2 linked regions of the Homo sapiens genome follow. The protein of the gene in region 2 purifies or fractionates together with the protein of the main gene of each other region. This does not show direct contact. Each region holds a gene or a part of one and is shown on either strand. Other genes may lie near its edges.

The links.
Region 1: the proteins of PEX11G (region 2) and PEX11A purify together in Homo sapiens (affinity purification with western blotting; one study listed by BioGRID and IntAct). This does not show direct contact.

What each region holds. Positions count from the first base shown.
Region 1 is NC_000015.10:89,684,395-89,687,754, forward strand, and holds part of PEX11A (peroxisomal membrane protein 11A), read right to left. Parts: intron 2,153-3,360; coding exon 2,037-2,152; intron 1-2,036. UniProt on the Homo sapiens protein: May be involved in peroxisomal proliferation and may regulate peroxisomes division. May mediate binding of coatomer proteins to the peroxisomal membrane. Promotes membrane protrusion and elongation on the peroxisomal surface.
Region 2 is NC_000019.10:7,479,036-7,482,535, forward strand, and holds part of PEX11G (peroxisomal membrane protein 11C), read right to left. Parts: intron 3,177-3,500; coding exon 2,998-3,176; intron 955-2,997; exon of another isoform or gene 861-954; coding exon of another isoform or gene 783-860; exon of another isoform or gene 703-782; coding exon of another isoform or gene 534-702; exon of another isoform or gene 1-533. UniProt on the Homo sapiens protein: Promotes membrane protrusion and elongation on the peroxisomal surface.

The sequences.
Region 1 (3,360 bases), on a different chromosome or scaffold from region 2:
AATCATGAGTGTGGACTGTTACATTTGATTATTTACCAGCTACACTTCTTTAGAAGGAAGGTACTATGATAACATGAACTCCAGATGCAATACTCTCTTGGAGAGTCTGATGCCTTGCATTTTATTTATTTTCCAGACAAAAGACTGTCTTTTTAAAAAACACTATTATCATTTTGCCATTTCTCTGGTCCAAACCCCTTTTGGCTACCTATTGTCAAGAAGATAAAGTAGAAATGGTAGAATTTAATGGATAGAACAATTAATAATATTGTCACAGAGCTCCTAGTTGAATTAAATCAACCATTGCAATGGCACGTCCTTATGTGAGCACGTAATTCAATTAATCAGGGATGCATCAATCAATAGGTACTTACTGAACACCTTCTGAGAAAGAGTTATAGTACTAAATGTCACGGAGGATACAAAAGAAGTACTTTTCCTTGAAGGATCATACCTTAGACTCAGGAGGTGCTCAGAAGTAGCTACTCTCAGAAAACTTATAATCTCAGAAGGGGCTGGGCGCGGTGGCTTACGCCTGTAATCCCAGCACTTTGGGAGGCCAAGGTGCACGGATCACCTGAGGTTAGGAGTTTGAGACCAGCCTGGCCAACGTGGTGAAACCCCGTCTCTACTAAAAAAAATAAAAAATAAAAACAAACATTAGCCAGGCATATTGGCGCATGCCTGTAGTCCCAGCTACTAGGGAGACTGAAGTGGGAGAATTGCTTGAACCTGGGAAGCGGAGGTTGCAGTGAGCCAAGATCATGCCACTGCACTCCAGCCTGGGCAACAGAGTGAGACTCCATCTCAAAAAAAAAAAAAAAAAAAAAAAAGAATGTTTTGTATTATGTTATCAAAAATAACATAAAATAGTAAAATAGTATATGTAATGACTATTTTAGTATATAGATTCTGGGTTCCAGTTCTGGCCCTTGCACTAACTGGCTGAATGACCCTGGATAAGCCCCTTCTGGACTTACAGACTAGTGACCTCTAAAGGACCTTTCAGCTCCAACATTCTAAATAATCTAAATAGAATTTCTAATCTTGGCCTTCAGTGCCATCCAGAAAAGCTCGCCCTACCCTTCCCATCCCTCTGCTTGACAATTTAAATCTGTCAAACTAGTTTTGTAGTTTGACAATGATCCTCCCATACAATGGTTTACTCAGTTCTGAGCCTTTATTAGAGAAAACTGCCCTTCGAAACTCTCTTCTTCCTTCTCTCTAGCCTCACCTCAAGTTCCACCTCCTCTAAAACACCTTTCTTTTCCTCTACCTCAGCCAACAAGTTTGGCACTAAATCTTATATATCATTATTTAAAGCACCTTACTTCTCCCATAAGGCTCAGGAATGTACCTATATAACATAGGTGCTCAAAACCAACTGATCAATATGTGATGCTCTACATTCCATTCTAATGCCTCTGCTAACCTACTATAGCAACATCTGGTTTTCATCAAACAACAAAGACTCAGAAAGGCAATTGCTATGAAAAGTACTGGATTTCCCAGTATGACATATTATTAAAGTAAATTTAATAAACACAAAATATTGATTTCACTTTTTACCTTTGGCATGAAACCTACCTCAAACATGGTCTACAAAAATGTATCCACCTATATATCCTCTAGCACTCCTCAATAAAGGAAAAAGGCAGGTGGTCTAGGATATAACTATTCCACTCTTGTTTAGAATAAAGGGGCTCACAGGAGCAGAAGCTCATGTCAGAGACTGCTAAAACATACTATGATTCTAAGAACTAAAGGTGAACTAACACGTTGTCTGTCTCACTGGTTATGATTCAGCAGAAAGATAAGGTGTAGCACCAGATGTGAACATAAGAGGGTGTTTATGAATGGTCTGCAGCAACACATTCAAACCTGTTGTGCCATGAGGACAGCCTTACTGGTCAATTTCACCAATAAACTTGATTGACTAGAAATTAATGACCTAGAAATTACTCCGTGAATTACAGGGTCTGAGGCTGAGGATTCTAAACCAGGAGTCACTGTCCCTCAAGAAACAGGGTACTTACATTTACGACCAGTGCTCACACTGGACTCCAGTTTCTTGAGCTTCATTACCACCTTCTCTTTGCCAGCTTTGGGCTCTAACAAATATCTAAGCAACATGCATGTGTACTGAGTGGCTCTGAAATGGAAAAAAAAAAATTGAGAAGAATGATTTACAAACCAAATAAAACTTAATTCAGGAAGTAAGGGAAAGAGAAACACATGCCTCCAGACAACATTTCCAAGACCATTTCTCATGTAGCAACTCTTACAAAAGCAAAATTCTGCAACAGTCATTCTACAGGAGAGCCAAAGGGTAGAACATGTCATGGAAATTTAACACAAAGGTAATGAAAACAAATTCTGCAATAATGCAGCCAATGTGCCTCCAAAAGGCCTTTTGCTGGCACAGAGAAATGGATATAGTCAAAGTGAGAAACTGTACAAAATCTCCCTCATGTTAAGTCTACAAAGATCCATATTCCTTCTCTTCCCCAGTGTAGATTTCTTTCTTTGTTTTTTTTTTGTTTGTTTTTGATCGAGTCTCGCTCTTTCGCCAGGCTGGAGTGCTGTGGTGTGATCTTGGCTCCACTGCAACCTCTGCCTCCCTGGTTCAAGCGATTCTCCTGTCTCAGCCTCCCGAGTAGCTGGGATTACAGGTGTGTGCCACCACGCCCAGCTAATTTTTGTATTTTTAATAGACACGGGGTTGTGCCATTTTGGTCATGGCTGGTCTCGATCTCCTGACCTCGTGATCTGCCCTACTCAACCTCCCAAAGTGCTGGGATTGCAGGCATAAGCTACTGTGCCTGGCCTGATTTTCAGATTTCTAAAATGAACTTTTCTACCATGTACTTAACCTACCATCTATGTGACAGGACACAAACTCAAACCAGAACCAAATGAAAAGTCCACAGTTTAAAGATTGTTTAATTTTTTATAAACGAAAGGACCAAATACACATCAGTACATAAATTAGTATAAATATGTTTTCATAGTTGTCTTTCAAAACTTATTCGTATTTTACATAAAATACAGGCAGAATCCTGCTTAATAATACTATATATTTAATAAAGTGATTATTGTCATGCTTACAAATAACAATGACTTACTAATATAAATGTAGGAGAAATTTTACATCACATAGTCACACATCCAAATCCATTTGGCAATCTACTAATAAAGTAGGTGCCTGGTTCCTACTGTCTTGTAAGTGCATTTGAATCCCTTTATGCTATAAATATTATTCTCAATAAAAATGCGGTACATTTTCATTTTCTAAAATAGTGAACTTGTTACTAGGAATGAAATAAAAAGAGAAGACTGGAATCATAAACAATCGCTTTC
Region 2 (3,500 bases):
ACTGTGACAGAATGGGCAGGGCCTGGTCACAACTCCTCTGGCCACTGGGTACCCAGGGTGCAGGATGCAGGATAGCGCCAGTGGCACAGCAGGTGGGAGCCTCCTGGGGGGCTAGGGAAAAACACTGATTCCTGGGCTCCCCAGACCCACAGAATCAGAAGCTCTGGGCCAAGCGCGATGGCTCACACCTGTAATCCCGGGACTTTGGGAGGCCAAGGCCGGTGGATCACCTGAGGTCAGGAGTTCAAGACTAGCCTGGCCAACATGGTGAACCCCTGTCTCTACTAAAAATACAAAAATTAGCTGGGGGTGGTGGTGGGCGCCTGTAATCCCAGGTACTCGGGAGGCTGAGGCAGGAGAATCACTTGACCCCGGGAGGTGGAGGTTGCAGTAAGCCAAGATCGCACCACTGCACTCCAGCCTGGGCGACAGAGGAAGACTGTGTCTCAAGAAAAGAATCAGAAGCCCTGGGCGCCGGACCCAGGCATCTCCATTTAGCAACCTCCTGGCTGATGCTCCGGCAGCCCTGGGCCTTAGGGCAGATGTCTGGTCATGATGAGCACACATGGAATGCTCTCCACCCACTCCCCCTGCTCACTGCAAATCCAGAGAAATGATGAAAAACCACATGCCCGAAACAAGAATGCCGCAGCAGGCGGGGCACACAGGACTTCGATGGCCGTGAAACAATTCCATTTGATTCTGCAAGGGGGGACACGTGTCAGTGTCCAAACCCATAGGATGCCCAAAACCTAGCGTGAACCCTAACGTGAGCTACTCACTTGGGGTGATGATGGATCCATGGAGGGGCATCAGTTGTAACAAATGCACCATGTGGATGCTGCCAGTAGTCGGGGAGGCTGTGTGTGGGGGTATATGGGAGCTCTCTGAACGTTATGCTCAATTTTGCCATGAGCCTAAAACTGCTCTAAAAAAATAAAGTCTGGGCCGGGAGTGGTGGCTCACGCCTATAATTCCAGCACTTAGGGAGGCCAAGGCAAGTGGATCACCTGAGCCCAGGAGTTGGAGACCAGTCTGGGCAACATGGCAAAACCGTGTCTCTACAGAAAAAAAATTACAAAAATTAGCCAGATATGGTGGCACAGCCTGTGGTCCCAGCCACTCAGAAGGCTGAGGTGGGAGTATTGTTTGAGCCCAAGGGGCGGAGGTTGCAGTGGGTCAAGATTGAGCCACTGCTTTTCAGCCTGTCTCAAAAAAAAAAAAAAAGTTTATTTAAGCAAAAAAGAAAGGAACCAAGGCTGCCCCTAAAATACAAACCAGAGGTCACGAGGCACCCAGAGGAAGGTGGCGGAAGAGAGGCTGTGAGCCAAGGCCCCCCTCTGACCGGAGCCCCAGGAACATCCAGGCTGGGCCCAGGCACCCTCCCCCAGGTCTCCCAGCACACAGGGAAGGCCAGCAGCACAGACACCGCTGCCTCCAGGGGCCATGGCCATGAAACATGACCCTTTTGAGACAGCCAAAATGCACAGGCAGGGTATTAGGTCAAAGGCTGGAAAAGAACCACCCAAGCTTGAACAGTGGGAGTCTGGGTTGGATTGTGGGTAATTCGAATCTTCTACTCTGAGGTTTATCTATTTTCCAGATTGTCTACGGTAAGCATGTAATTAGGACATCTGTGCCGGGGGGAAAACAAGAACTACTGAGAGTCAGAGCCTCGACCAGGGACAAGCAAAGCTTCCCCCAGAAAAAGGACACAGCCTGCCTGAGGCTGGGGGCAGCCGCACCTCACCCCAGCGATCTAAGAGCCCTTCACAGCCACTGAAACATGGAGACCAGGGGGCCCAGCTCCTGCTGGTGTTTTCAGGGGCAGGGGATTCTGACTCAGCGCATTTGCAAAGAGGAAAATGTTTGGGAGGAAACCATTACTAGAAAGTTCTAGAAACTATATGGTTTTTTGGAGGCACAGAACTAGTCAGGAAACTGCTGACTGTTTTCTCTGGGGTGTCGGCTGACAGCAACGCCAGCAAGACTCAGGGACCCGGGTAAAGGCCACTCCGCTGGCTGCTTCTCACAGGCCCTGGAGTTACTTCTTCTTTCTAAGTGTGGTCAGCAGAGTCATGACCCCTTCTAAAATGTCCATGTCCTGAACCTGTCAACATGTTCACCTCCAAGGCAAAGGATATTTTGCCGATGGGATTAAGCTAAGGATTTTTTCTTTTTTTGACACGGAATCTTGCTCTGTCGCCAGGCTGGAGTGCAGGGGTGTGATCTCGGCTCACTGCAACCTCCACCTCCCCAAATTCAAGCAATCCTCCTGCCTCAGCCTCCCAAGTAGCTGGGATTACAAGTGTGCACCACCAAGCCCAGCTAATTTTTTGTATTTTTAGTAGAGACAGGGTTTCACCATGTTGGCCAGGCTGGTCTAGAACTCCTGGGCTCAAGTGATCCACCCGCCTTGGCCTCCCAAAGTGCTGGGATTACAGGCATGAGCCACCACGCCCAACCTAAGCTAAGGATCTTGAGATGGGGTATTACCCTGGATCATCCAGGTGGTCCCCATGTCATCATAGGGGTCCTTATAGGAGGGAGGAAGGAGGATGAGGGTCAGGGAAGGAGGTGTGACGCTGAAAGCAGAGGTCATGCTTGGAAGATGAAGGAAGGGGCCATGAGCCAAGGAATGTGGGTGGCCTCCAGAAGCTGGAAAATCCAAGGAAACGGACCTCCCCCTGGGACCTCCAGAAGGCATCAGCGCCTGCTGACACTAGCCCAGGGAGTGTTCTGACTTCCAGCCTTCAGAATCCTAAGATAAGAAGTTTCTGTTGCCCAGCACTACAGAGTTGTGCTAATTTGTTCCGACAGTTATTCTAAACAAATACACCCACAAAAGGAAGAAACAACAAAACCTCCAAGGAAAACTCTAAGAGGCAAAGACCCACCGCAGTCTGAAGCCTGTGCTGTTGCTGGGGCCGCTGCCACTTTGCTAAGGAGGCACCGCCCAGGGACCTTGGGTGCTCCCTTCTGGCCCATGCCACTTACCTGGCAACCCCCAGGAGCAGAGAGAGGGCCCACAGGGTTGTACTCAGCGTCCACCACCGAGAAGAGTCCACGTGGAGGACCCGGGCATCAGCCGCCCAGGCCACGTGCTCACAGGGGTAGTAGAGCTGGTCAGCCAGGTTCCCTAGGACGGAGACACAGCGGACAAAGGCGTCCTCCTCCTGCAGGACCAGGAGCAGAGGGGGCCTAGGGTCAGACTTACCCACTGCCCATTTTAGCACCGTAGCCATGCCAGGTGGCAGAGAGCTATTTCCTGACCCCAGTCCCTGGGCCGTGTCCAGGCCTGGCAGGCCCCGCGGGAGAAAGGCTCTGGGGCTGGGGTCCCCGCACAGGCCTGATTTCTGTGTCTCGGCAGCACGGTGCTCAGTGCCCCTTGGAGGGAGGCTCTCAACGCAGCTGTGCAGTGCAGTCCTCTGCAGAGCTTCAAAAACCCCATGCCCAATGCCAGCCGTGAGGATTCTGCCTCACTCAGCCTGGGGCAGGCC